Linked DNA regions of Homo sapiens. The protein of the gene in region 2 interacts with the protein of the main gene of each other region in a pairwise test. Each region holds a gene or a part of one and is shown on either strand. Other genes may lie near its edges.

Region 1 (7,029 bases), on a different chromosome or scaffold from region 2:
CTAATTTTTGTATTTTTAGTAGAGATGGGGTTTCACCATGTTGGCCAGGATGGTCTTAATCTCTTGACCTGATGATTCACACGCCTTGGCCTCCCAAAGTGCTGGGATTACAGGTGTGAGCCACCACGCCCGACCAGCAATAGTCTTTCTTTCTAATAAAGTTTCTCTTGGCCGGGCACGGTGGCTCACGCCTGTAATCCCAGCACTTTGGAAGGCCGAAGCAGGTAGATCACCTGAGGTCAGGAATTCAAGCCCAGCCTGGCCAACATGGTGAAACACCGTCTCTACTAAAAATACAAAAATTAGCCGGGCATGGTGGTATGTGCCTGTAGTCCCAGCTACTTGGGAAGCTGAGGCAGGAGAATCACTTGAACCTGGGAGGCGGAGGTTGCAGTGAGCCAAGATCCCGCCACTGCACTCCAGCCTGGGCGACCGAGTGAGACTCCATCTCGGAAAAGAAAAAAAAAGTCTCTCTTTATCTAAGTCCATTTTTTTTTTAATTTGATAAGCCAAGCACAAGGTACAGTGTCCCTTTTCTCATTATGGAATACAGCCTCACAAGAAGTCTGAAATAAGTTACTACACTCAACACATTTTACCGATGATGTATGCGAGGTCCAAAGATGTAAAGTAACTTTTCAGAGATCACACCACTACAAAAAAGAGCTAGATTTTTTAAGGTTAGGTCTTTGGACTCTAGAACTCATGTGATCTATACCTTAACAAGTATTCTCATCAAAAACCACTGGAGGCCTGGCCCAGTGGCTCATACCTATAATCCCAGCACTTTGGGAGGCCAGTGTGGGAAGATCACTTGAGCCCAAGAATTCAAGACCAGCCTGGGCAACATCAGGAGACCTCAACTTTACAAAAAATAAAAATAAAAATTAGCTAGGTGCAGTGGCACATGCCTGTGGTCCCAGCTACTCAGGAGGCTGAGGCAGGAGGATCGCTTGAGCCCAGGAGGTCAAGGCTGCAGTGAGATGTGATCGCACCACTGCACTCCAACCTGGGCAACAAGCAAAACCCTGTCTCAAAGAAAATAAAAGAAAATAGTCCAGAGTTCTGGAATTTGAGGTCAGGAAAGATTAGAATTAATTGTATAGAAAGAGAAAGGAAAAAACCCAACAACACACACACACACACACACACACACACACACACACACACCCCTCTTCCAAATCAGAGTATTGAGTGCTTTCCCAGGACACACACACACACACACACACTCACACACACACACACCTCTTCCAAATCAGAGTATTGAGTGCTTTCCCAGGACACACACACACACACACACACACACACACACACACCTCTTCCAAATCACACACACCTCTTCCAAATCAGAGTATTGAGTGCTTTCCCAGGACACACACACACACACACACACACACACACACACACACACCTCTTCCAAATCAGAGTATTGAGTGCTTTCCCAGGAGGTTTGAGAAAAATCAACACTTTAAGCACTCTTGAATTCACGGTTTTAACTTGTTAATTCTAAGAACAATAGACTTAGGTTTCCTTCCCTCCCCAACTCAAACCTTGTTAATTCTAAGAACAATAGACTTAGGTTTCCTTCCCTCCCCAACTCAAAGCTGCTGACCTGGCAAAACCCCAACAGGTAGTCGGGTTTCACTTTCCTTTTTGCAACTGGTTTTTCTTGGAACTAATTTACACAAATAATTTTGAAATTTTCACGTGATTTATCAAAAAATGCTTCTTGGTTTAGTTATTTAATTAAAATTAAGTCTTTACAAGTAGCAGATCAAAAAAGTGGTACTTGGCACAATCCATTGCCTGCAGTGGGTACTCACTTATGTGGATCTGGGTAAATGTTGGTGTATCCAAATTGAAAGAAAATGAAAAGCATATGTTGTATACATTGAATTTGTCTTTTTTCTTCCATAGAAAATGAAATCACAGGCGCATTACTGCCTTGTCTTGATGAGTCTCGTTTTGAAAATCTTGGAGTAAGGTAAGAATGAAGAAATAAATTCACGTTATAACCAAACACACTTTATCCATCTTTCAGGGACAAAGCCCAAAATCTCTGATATAAACTGTCCTCATTTTAAATCTATGAAGTGCTTTAAAACAGCAGAATCCCTTGCCTGCTGGTTTTGTTTGTTCATTTGTTTTTTGAGATAGTCTCTTGTTCACCCAGGCTGGAGTATCTCGGCTCACTGCAACCTCTGCCTCCCGGCTTCAAGTTATTCTCCTGCCTCAGCCTCCTGAGTAGCTAGGATTACAGGTGCCCACCACCATGCCCCACTAATTTTTTTTCGGTTTTTTTTTTTTTTGAGACAGAGTCTCGCTCTGTCTCCCAGGCTGGAGTGCAGTGGCGTGATCTTGGCTCACTGCAAGCTCCGCCTCCCGGGTTCATGCCATTCTCCTGCCTCAGCCTCCCGAGTAGCTGGGACTACAGGCGCCTGCCACCACGCCTGGCTACTTTTTTGTATTTTTTGGTAGACACAGGGTTTCACCATGTTAGCCAGGATGGTGTCAATCTCCTGACCTCGTGATCTGCCCGCCTCAGCCTCCCAGAGTGCTGGAATTACCGCGCCCGGCTGCCCCACTGATTTTTGTACTTTTAGTAGAGATGGGGTTTCACCATGTTGGCCAGACTGGTCTTGAACTCTTGGCCTCAAGTGATCCGCTTGCCTCGGCCTCCCAAAGTGCTGAGATTACAGGTGTGAGCCACCGCGACTGGCCACCTGCTGTTTGTTTTCGCTGTACAAATCCTATGTTTGCTATTACTGTTTATTCCTATTTTAGTTTATTTTTAATTTTATTTATTTATTTATTTATTGAGACAGAGTCTCACTCTGTCACCCAGACTGGAGTGCAATGGTGCGATCCCGGCTCACTGAACCCCCTGGGTTCAAGCCATTCTCCTGCCTCAGCTTCCTGAGTAGCTGGGATTACAGGCATGCACCACCATGCCCAGCTAAGTTTTGTATTTTTAGTAGAGACAGGGTTTCACCATGTTGGCCAGGCTGGTCTCGAACTCCTGACCTAAGGTGGTCTGGAGTTCTGACCTAAGGTGGGCCAAGGTCTGCCCACCTTGGCCTCCCAAAGTGCTGAGATTACAGGCATAAGCCACCGTGTGTGGCCTTATTCCTATTTTAAATAATGTTGCAGACAAATCTTCATCAAGTTTGTAGTGACCAACTTTTTACTCTCAAGTTCAGAATAATTGAATTATACACACTGGGAAATACATAAGAACCAATAGGGAAAAAAATGTTAGTAAGAAAATCAAGGCTACACCCCTATCTTGAGCATATTTCTAGGTTTTCCTAAAGATTGGAATATGCCCTGGTATTAGATTTAAAGACACTATGCAAAACAGGCACTTTTTAGTTGTATAATTTGGGAGAAGTCATTTAACCCTTCAGTTTCTGTACCTGTAAAATGGATAACAATAATGAGATGATGTACATAAAGTGTTGAAGCATATGATTAACGCTTAGTAAATTTTATAGATAGTGATACAGAAAATTAAAAAATTAGCCGGGTACTGTGCATGCACCTGTAGTCCCACCTACACTCAGGAGGCTGAAGCAGGAAGATCCCTTGAGCCCAGGAGTTCAAGGTTGCAGTGATCTATGATAAGCTCCTGCACTCCAGCTTGGGCAGCAGAATAAGACCCTGTCTCAGATAGGTAGGTAGGTAGATAGATACATATATACATACATACATACATAGTTACATAGATCCATCTCTGTGTATGGCTGTAGGTTCTAGGGTCTAGATTAGAGTGGGGCTCCTTTAATGATCTCAGTAGAGGATCTGGTGCTTAAATACTTCTTTTTTTTGAAGCGGAGTTTTGCTTTTGTTGCCCAGGCTGGAGTGCAATGGCACGATCTCGTCTTACCTCAACCTTCACCTCCCAGGTTCAAGTGATTCTCCTGCCTCAGCCTCCCGAGTAGCTGGGATTACAGGCATGCGCCACCATGCCCAGCTAATTTTGTATTTTTAGTAGAGACGGGGTTTCTCCATGTTAGTCAGGCTGGTCTCGAACTCCCGACCTCAGGTGATCCACCCACCTCGTCCTCCCAAAGTGCTGGGATTATAGGCGCGAGCCACTGCGACCGGCCTTAAATACTTCTTAAAATGAAGATTTTGTTTCTGTTAGAAAATTGGCAACAGTGGGGAAATATGGCCTTCTCTTCTGAAATTTTAGTTACATGTTGTTTGTGGTAACAGTAACCAAAGAATCAAAACAAAGGATTATACTGAATTACTTCCTGTGCTGTTGCTTAGTAATTGATAACAGAAGTACATTGTGAAACAAGATCACTGTAGAACATTTAACTGACTTCCAGTAAATATCCTTTGGATCAGAATCTCCAGGGACCTCATCTTAGCCCTTTCTTTTTTTTTTTTTTTTTGAGACGAAGTCTCACTCTGTTGCCCAGGCTGGAGTTCAAGTTCAGTGGTGTTCAAGTGATTCTCCTGCCTCAGCCTCCTAAGTAGCTGGGACTACTGGCATGTGCCACCATGCCCGGTTAATTTTTTGTATTTTTAGTAGAGACGGGGTTTCATCGTGTTAGCCAGGATGGTCTCAATCTCCTGACCTTGTGATCTGCCCGCCTCAGGCCTCCCAAAGTTCTTTTTTTTTTTTTTTTTTTTGAGATGGAGTCTTGCTCTGTCACTCAGGCTGGAGGGCAGTGGCGTGATCTCGGCTCACTGCAACCTCCACCTCCCAGATTCAAGTGATTCTACCACCTCAGCCTCCTGAGTAGCTGGGACTACAGGTGTGTGCCACCATGCCCGGCTAATTTTTGTATTTTTAGTAGAGACAGGGTTTCACTATGTTGGCCAGGGTGGTCTTGAACTCCCGACCTCATGATCTGCCTGCCTCAGCCTCCCAAAGTGCTGGGATTACAGGCGTGAGCCACTGTCCCCGGCATGACTCTTTCATAACCACATTTCAGCCCTCTCAGTCCTCTCAAAGTCCCCTTTACTACTTGTTTCTTGTACATAATAGTTGCTTACTATTTGACCTGAATGGAATTTGTTCTAATACAGTCTTTCTTTTCAAGGGAGCCATGTGCATGTTTGTGGACCCAAGTGCTATTGATTCATTCAGTGAATATTTTTGGAAAGCTCACTATGTACTAGGAATTCTTCCATGAATTTGGGGCACATGAGTGAACAAAACAGACAAAGGAACACTATATTGCAGTGTTCCAGAAGGAACACTATATTGCACGTCTCTGTGCCCCACCTCATAACTCAAATTCTGTAGGACTCCTTAGAGCTGTATTGTTCTGTATAATAACAACTAGCTTCACGTTTAAATTAATTAGAAGTAAATTAAGTAAAAAATTCCTCAGTTACACTAGCCATATTTCAAGTACTTAGTAGTCACTATGGCTAACGGCTACTGTGTTGGACAGAGCAGATATAGAACATTTCCATCATCGCAGAAAGTTCTACTAGACAGTGCTGCCTTACAGGTTGCCAGTGGGATTAGCCCTACCCACCACTCCATCCAGTTGCTCACAGTAGTACCAATGCAATCAACTTGTTAATGGACCTTTGTACTGTTTTTACCTAATTTCCTATTTTACCCTCCCTAGACCCCCCAATCCCTGTGCCCAGAGTTCACCCCAAGATTAATTACTTGCAAGCTCTTATCCTGGACCCTGCTTTCTAGGGAGAATCCAGCTTAGACAAGCACTCCTAGTAGGCCCTCAATTTTATGAACAACCATTGATTTATAAAGGTTTTTTTAACAAGTAAGAAACAGGCCAGGCGTGGTGGCTCAGGCCTTTAATCCCAGCACTTTGGGAGGCCGAGGCGGGCGGATCACGAGGTCAGGAGATCGAGACCATCCTGGCTAACATGGTGAAACCCTGTCTCTACTAAAAATACAAAAACAAAAAAGAAATTAGCTGGGCATGGTGGCGGGCGGCTGTAGTCCCAGCTACTCGGGAGGCTGAGGCGGGAGAATGGCGTGAACCCGGGAGGTGGAGCTTGCAGTGAGCCGAGATCACGTCACTGCACTCCAGCCTGGGCAACAGAGTAAGACTCCATTTCAAAAAAAAAAAGAAGTTAGATAGAAACATTGTCACGTTAAATATACATGTCAATTGTAAGAAGCATTAAATTTCAGAAATGTTGGAACACAGGAATAAAATTCTTTCATAATCTAGATATCCTGGCCCATGACTTCTTTAAATCTTTATTTAATGCCATGTCCTTTGCTAAACAAAACAACCCCCTGGTTTTGGGTGGTTTTATATACTCTAATCAGTGATTTTGGTTTTGTTTTGTTTTGTTTTTGAGTTGGAGTTTTGCTCTTGTTGCCCAGGCTGGAGTGCAATGGCGCCATCTCGGCTCACCGCAATCTCCGCCTCCCGGGTTCAAGCAATTCTCCTGCCTCAGCCTCCCGAGTAGCTGGGATTACAGGCATGCGCCACCACCACGCCTGGCTAATTTTGTATTTTTAGAAGAGACGGGGTTTCTCCATGTTAGTCAGGCTTGTCTCGAGCTCCCAACCTCAGGTGATCCACCCACCTCGGCCTCCCAAAGTGCTGGGATTACAGGTGTGAGCCACTGCGCCCGGCCGATTTTGGGGTTTTAAGCGATGAATACCAAATGTCAGTTTAGGAAAATATTAAGTGGTCACGGGGTTAGTTTAGGTTTGATATTTTATGCTATGACTCCGGTTTTGCTCAACTATGTGACTCCCCTTAAACTAAGTCCACCTATAAGTACTTCTGAAAGCCTGGCTTTACACTGTGCTTGTTATGTCAAACTGATGAGGAGGATAGGGGAATAGGAAAACACGAAATTTGCTGCTTTAATTTATCAGCTGTAATAATGCTTCTGTGTATCCCAAGATATTATTCTTAAGTGTTCTTATTACCATGGGTTCAGTGTGTACCATAGAGGCCAATGTAGTGCCTCTGACTCCCAGTCTATGTATGACTTGTAGAAAGATACTTTTTTTTCAATCTGGTTATCTAGTAGATCAGTAAAACCCTTTGCCTGCACTCTCTGTTGACA
Region 2 (7,029 bases):
GTCTGGTCTTTAATGTGGGTTAGCTAGGTTTAAAGATTTAAATATAAATACTCTTACCAAATATTTTACAGTTAAACAGCAACTTAATTTGCCACTTTTGGTTACAAGAGACTTGGTTGTGAAAACACTTTCCTGAATTTGGGATCCAAACTTGTCTTCCAATAAGACATATTCTAAAACTGCATGTTTATATTTGAAAATAGTTTGCACAGTGGGAGTGGGACAGTTGGCTGTATAGGCACAGTAAACTAATGAAGACTACACTTGGATATGTGCTGGATGTGTTTAAGCTGGGTGTGAAAAGCTTCCGTAGTTGTGAAATATATTCTTTATTTTAAAATACAGGATTCTAGTAGCAAGATATGTGATTTGAATGCCAACACTGAATCAGAAGTACCAGGAGGTCAGAGTGTTGGTGTTCAAGGGGAAGCAGCGTGTGTCAGTATTCCACATTTAGATCTGAAGAATGTTTCTGATGGTGATAAATGGGAAGGTAATTTTACCCACACGCATTATTTTCCTGATAATGTTACTTGTAACCGAAATTACCCTAAGCAATGATAAGACTACAGCCCTTTTCTGGATAACCTTATTCATCTTGATCTTCTGTTCTCCCTTTCATGTAAGATGAACAAGTGGGTGTTTTTAGTGAAACACACTGAGATTTTGGGGCAGCATCTCATATGAACTAGAAGTTCTTGTCTGATCCATCAACAGCTTTGAAAATGGATGTTAGAACTGATTTTTTTAAAAAGTCACCCAGCATACGTTTTTGTTAATATTTAAATCAGGTGCTATCTCCTAGTCTTTGGAAGCCCAGTATGTTAAGGCTTAGGGATCTCACCAGTTTAAGCAGAGCGTGTATAATTACCTTGTCCTTAGTATCATCAGTAGTACTTTTTTGAAAAATGACCTTCAAGGGTACTTCTAAACAAATATTGTACCATATTCCTGTATTTCTGTCTTAGGTTATGAAGGTATGGTGCAGGGGACTCTAAAAATTTGCACAAAGGAGAGAAGTTAAAATTTAACAAGCAAACAACATGGGTATATGCATTTCTCAAAACTCAGCAAATACATAGATTTTTGTGTTTCTTTGTATATAAAGTTCTCTTTTTACTTCAAGAGGATAAAAAACTGTAAACAAATGCTGAACTTCAGTGGATGATTTGCATGCTGGAGTGTTTATGGGGAAATTTACTGATACCTGCAGTTTACTCTGAAATCCATGAAAAAAATAAGATGGTTAATGGGATGGATAAATGTTATAAAGCAAGTATAGTAGAATGTTAATGGTAGATTGTGATTGGTATATGGATATTCAGTGTAAAGTTCTTTCAATTTTGCTATGTATTTGTAAACTTTCAAATAAAATGTTGAGTGGGGGTGGGAATCAAGCAATAAATTTGGATCTAGGAGTTTTTCTGGATCATACACTTTGGTAAAGAGACAATGAGATAACTCAAGAATCTTAAGGATAGTTACATATTCATTCACTTGGATGAAGATCCCTGGGTTGTCTCACCTTTGGCAAGTATCTGTTGACATACACTGGCAATAACAGGAATTCTAATGCCAGTGCCACGGACTCCTTTTGGCACTGTTTAAGTGTACTCACCTGATCGCAAATGGAGTGTGTGTGGGTCTTGTTTTTTTTTTTAAGGTCTAGGCATTTTTTTTTAAGAGCCCCAACCAAGTCATTGTCTGTGCCAATTTTTATTGCCATCTCCTCCCCACCCTCCTTTTTATATAGGTCTAGATGTTTGGCATGCCCAGTGGCATATTATCTGTTTTAACTTAGACTAAATTAGAAAGTTGTCTTTAATTTGCTTTGTTCTGGGTTATTCAGGACATCTGGAATTTATGAAGATGCTTCCCAGTGTTGGGGGATATGTTAGCATACTGGTGGCAGTTGAAGATTAAATGTTCTTTTTTGTTATTTATTGTGGCTGAAATAAAAGGAATGGTGGTCGACAGAGCATCCCTTGCAGCATTGCTAGGAAATGAGTCTTCAAAGGAAGCAGCTTGGATTCTGATAAAGCACTTTTGTTTCTTCCTATTAGAAGATGCAGATAAATAGTTCTTTATGATCTTTGGCCTGGGAGTCCTGATTAAATTTTAAACATAGAAGAATAATTGTTTTTCATTGTCTGAAGAGGATAGACCTTCTCTGTCTAGCGTCAGCGTTCTTGAGTCTCCCTGAAAGAGAACCTGATACTGGACTGTCTTTTTTTTCCATGTCAGAATCCAGCACCTATACCTTGGTATAGATAAAGGAGGTAACCTGTAGGCTGCTGATGCCTGATTTTCAGTGCCTGAGCTGCCCTGGTTCAACAGCCTAAACAAGTCTATGTAGGTCCCCTACTTGTTCTTCCAGAAATAGGGGTCCGCAACTTTCAGAAAGCCGACAGTTACAGACACCTGAGCGAACTTCCCAGCCATGAACTGTGCATGTGCTTTGTAGAGTGGCTGTTTGTAGACCATGTTGTTTCTTCTAACTTTGTCACTAATGCAAACATTGATTGGAGTTAGGATATTCCTCCAATTTTTTTTTTTTTTTTTTTTTTTGAGACGGAGTTTTGCTCTTGTTGCCCAGGCTGGAGTGCAGTGGGGCGATCTCAGCTCACCGCAACTTCCGCCTCGCAGGTTCAAGCAATTCTCCTGCCTCAGCCTCCTGAGTAGCTGGGATTACAGACATGTGCCACTACACCCGGCTAATTTTGTATTTTAGTAGAGACGGAGTTTCTCTGTGTTGGTCAGGCTGGTCTCAAACTCCCGGCCTCGGGTGATCCGCCCGCCTTGGCCTCCCAAAGTGCTGAGATTACAGGTGTGAGCCACCGTGCCCGGCCAGGAGTTAGGATATTCTAAATGAAAAAGTCTTATTTATTTAAGAGACCAACTTACTTTAGACCCTGGATACCTTGGAATCAGACATGCTTTGTTTGATGTGACTCTTTGTAGAGAAGTGGGATGACTCCAAATAGAGCCCTATGTCACTATTCCTAAGTACATAGTTTCTGTTTTGTTTTTTCCTCAAAGGATAAGAAAAATAGCAGAATGCAGTAGTAGTTAGCAAGCAGGTAGCACATGACTGTCACCAGTATGAATTTGTAGCAGCTGTTTGCAAAGTTTTGACTTTTAATGGAAGTGGATACCATCTTCAGATTCTCTCCTGCTAACTCTGGAATGAAATGCAGTAGGATTTTTTCAAAGAGCAAACTAAGGGAGATATTTTCCTTTAAAATCATTTACACTGAAAAGCTTCAAACAGTACCTGCTTAAGAATTTCCATTTCTTCAGTTTTATGTTTGAGTTTTAATAAAATAGCACGACTTTGAGTTTTCCCCCCCCTTTTTTGCATTGCTTGCTGAAATGGAAATGTTATGTTTGTGTTTGTTAAAATCTAGTTAGTAGTGATTTCTTTTAATAACGTTTTTGAACAGAATGCCTAACTGGTTTTAGGGAAATGTTTTTGGTATCTTTGGCTTTGTGTTATGTGTATGGTTTGTTCTGACTGTGCTGTGTGTTCACTTTAGTATTTTTTGCCATTTTTTCCATTTTATTAGCGTCATGCCCTATCACTTTTCCCCTCATTGATTTCAAAACAATGCATCTGCAGAGAGATGGGGAGGGTAAGTATGGTTCACCATAGTTTAGTTTTTTTGCCTTTTATGGTTCACTTTGTTTGTCTTTTTATTAAGCCCTTCTCCTGCTGTCCCCATATCTTAGGAAAACTGTTCTGGGTTCAAAGTGAACCCAGAAAAAATTGCTATTACTTTTGTCTTTTCTTAAAATAGGATATTTCTCATAAAATGTTTACTACCAGTTACTTATTTGCTGGGGCACAGGTACAAGGGTTGCTTTGAAAATCACTTTATTGTTGGGTTTATTGTGGGATTGCACGCTTTGTACCCAATTTTTAATTCTCAGATTGATCTGGGCTTCAAAAACAAACTAAATTATGTTCTTATTATTTTGAAAGGAAAGGTAATGCTTTAAATTGCTAATGCATAAAGTTAAACTAAATTACTAAAGCAGCGATCTTAGCTATTGTGTGAGGAAAAAGAAAACATCACTCTTGAATTTTGACACTGTCAAGCCCTCTTTGCATTCATTTTCGCTATTGCTAATAGCCAATAGCATCAAAATTTTTAAGTGTAGTTACTTAAAAAAAAGCTGCCGGGCGTGGTGGCTCACGCTTGTAATCCTAGCACTTTGGGAGGCCGAGGCAGGCGGATCACTTGAGGTCAGGAGTTCGTAACCAGCCTGGCCAACATGGTGAAACCCCATCTCAACTAAAAATACAAATATTAGCCAAACATGGTAGCAGGCGCCTGTAACACCAGCTCCTTGGGAGGCTGAGGCAGGAGAATCGCTTGAACCCAGGAGGCAGAGGTTGCAGTGAGTCAAGATCGTGCCACTGCACTCCAGCCTGGGTGACAGAGCAAGACTCCATCTCTAAAAAAATAAATAAATAAATAAAAAGCTAATGTGTAGATGGGAATTTTTTCTTTCCCTCCTGTGCTTAATGTTGTATTTGGGGTATATTTGTGGATTGTGTGTATGATCTGTATGTGTTCTATATGTAATCAAACATTATATTTGCAAAGACATCAAATGTATTAACATAGCTTTCATTTGAGGGCATACAGGATAACTGCAGTAAAGTAAATGTGCTTAAGAAGGCCTAGTGCTATTAAGTTTTGTCTTAGTAACACTGTTGGGTATTATTAAAATATATATTATACATAGGAATCCTGTAGCAGAAGATAACCATCACAGTTTAATGTTAGAGGCCAGGTGCTGTCAGGTGAATTAGCTCCTCCTTTGGGAATATTAGAATTCTTCTAAAGTCAGAGAACTCCATTTGGTGAGTGTTCCATGTAACATGGGGAACAGCTCCCACTTTTTCTTAATATAGCTATTTGACAGTGAGGGACAGGTCATACACCTGACATCATTTGGCTTTTAAATTAAATTTCTAAGAAAGAACTGTTCAGTTCTTGCTGTTTCTGGTTTTCCCCTACTTGAAAACTAACATTTGTAAATAAAACATCTTTTGAAAAGTTCAGAATTATATTAAATAACATCTTTAGAATTAAATTGAGTTTTAAAGAGCTTGACAATGTCCTTTCTTGCTTTGCCACTGGGTTCAGAAATTTAAATTTATATGGAAATAGAACTCTGGGCTGGGCACAGTGGCTCATGCCTGTAATCCCTGCACACTGAGAGGCTGAGATGGGAGGATCACTTGAGCCTAGCAGTTCAAGACCAGCCTGGCCAACATAGTGAGACCTCGTCTCTACCAACAACAAAAAAAAGAAAATTAGTCAGGCGTAGTGGCAAGCGCCTGTAGTCCCAGCTACTCGGGAGGCTAAGGTGGGAGGATTGCTTGAGCCTAGAAGGTCGAGGCTGCAGTGAGCCACCATCATGACACTGAATTCCAGAGCCTGGGCAGCAGAGCGAGACCTTATCTCAAAAAAAAAAAATTGAACTCTGGACTAAAAAGTGAAGCTTGAATAATTTTAAACTATAGTAGGCTTTATGAAGATTATATATATATATATATACACACACACATGTATGTGTGTGTGTGTGTGTGTATGTGTGTATGTATATATGAACCACTACATAATGATATGATTTAAGGAACACATAGCTGATATTTTGTGACTTTTTTCCCACGTGGAATCAAGAGACCCATGGTACTATTCTTTGTGTTTGTTTTATAGAGCCATTTCCTGCTTTTAAGTCTTGGCAGGAGGACTCTGAGTCTGGAGAAGCTCAGCTGTCTCCACAAGCTGGAAGAATGAATCATCACCCCTTGGAAGAGGACTGTCCTCCAGTATTATCACACCGCAGTTTAGATTTTGGTCAAAGCCAGCGTTTCCTACATGATCCAGAAAAGTTGGATTCCTCATCTAAAGCACTGTCTTTTACTAGGTATATGATTTTTATGTACTTACAAGAGGCAATTCCTATTATGTACCCAAGTCTTTTGAGAGATTTAGTCTTCCAGCCTGGGCTTCAATAGTGAAACTCCATCTCAAAAAAAAAAAAAAAAAAAGAGAGAGATTGAGTCTTCTAGACATAGAATTCAGAGCTTTCTCACTGATTTTATAGAGCACATTTTTGTAAGTTTTGGTTTTTTTTGACCCTGCTGAGTTCAGTGAGGTGTAGCGTTTGAAGTTTGCTCTCAAATAGACATTTTCTCGTGGTGTATTATTCATTTATTTATGTATTCATCGCTGAAATACAGAGCTCTGTAAAGGAAGCAGCAAATGGTGCTGAGCAGTTCCTAATCTTTTTTTATCAAAGCTTTAAATGGATCTGAATGTCAAAAACTTTGTTATGCAGTTTGAACAGTTACAAGAGCTCTGAGCTGCTAGGTATCTTTGTTTCTTTGCTGCCTTTGTCCAAACCAGTTTTAAATGATTCCAAACTGTTTTCATCACCACTTGTATTAGCTAAATTTGTGGTCTGTAACATTACAGTGTTTCTTTATACTACCTGTCCTTTAGTGTTAGGGACTTATTTTTACCTTTAAGATTTACTTATTGCTAATAGTGCCATGTCAGGGCAATAAGAGATACAGTGTTGGTACTTGAAAATTTAACAGTGTTGGCCTTTTGTTTTAATTCAGAATTCGAAGATCATCCTTTAGTTCAAAAGATGAAAAGAGAGAGGACAGAACACCTTATCAGCTGGTCAAGAAACTTCAGAAGAAAATCAGACAATTTGAGGAACAGTTTGAAAGGGAAAGAAATAGCAAGGTAGGTTTGTAGCATTCCCCAGAGTGAGCTTAATCTAATATTAGAACTGAGAGGATAGTTTTTCAAAAGCATTAGTTTAGATCTGTGTGAGAAAGGTAACAAATCTGAGATACCCGGAGGAACAGTGATCATGTAGATCTGAGATTATATAACTCCTTGGTCTCCTGACTTCCAGGCCAGTATTCTTGCCATTTGCACCGTGGCATCTTTATATTTCCACTGGCAAAGCAGCTTTTAGAATTTTTAAAGCAAATAC

The links. Proteins that work in one complex are often made in the same cells at the same time.
Region 1: the proteins of FAM13B (region 2) and SAMHD1 interact in a two-hybrid assay, tested with the Homo sapiens proteins (one study listed by BioGRID).

Annotation. Positions count from the first base shown.
Region 1 is NC_000020.11:36,941,693-36,948,721, reverse strand, and holds part of SAMHD1 (deoxynucleoside triphosphate triphosphohydrolase SAMHD1), read left to right. Parts: intron 1-1,917; coding exon 1,918-1,984; intron 1,985-7,029.
Region 2 is NC_000005.10:137,953,080-137,960,108, reverse strand, and holds part of FAM13B (protein FAM13B), read left to right. Parts: intron 1-345; coding exon 346-493; intron 494-3,566; coding exon 3,567-3,632; intron 3,633-5,732; coding exon 5,733-5,943; intron 5,944-6,619; exon of another isoform or gene 6,620-6,643; coding exon 6,644-6,773; intron 6,774-7,029.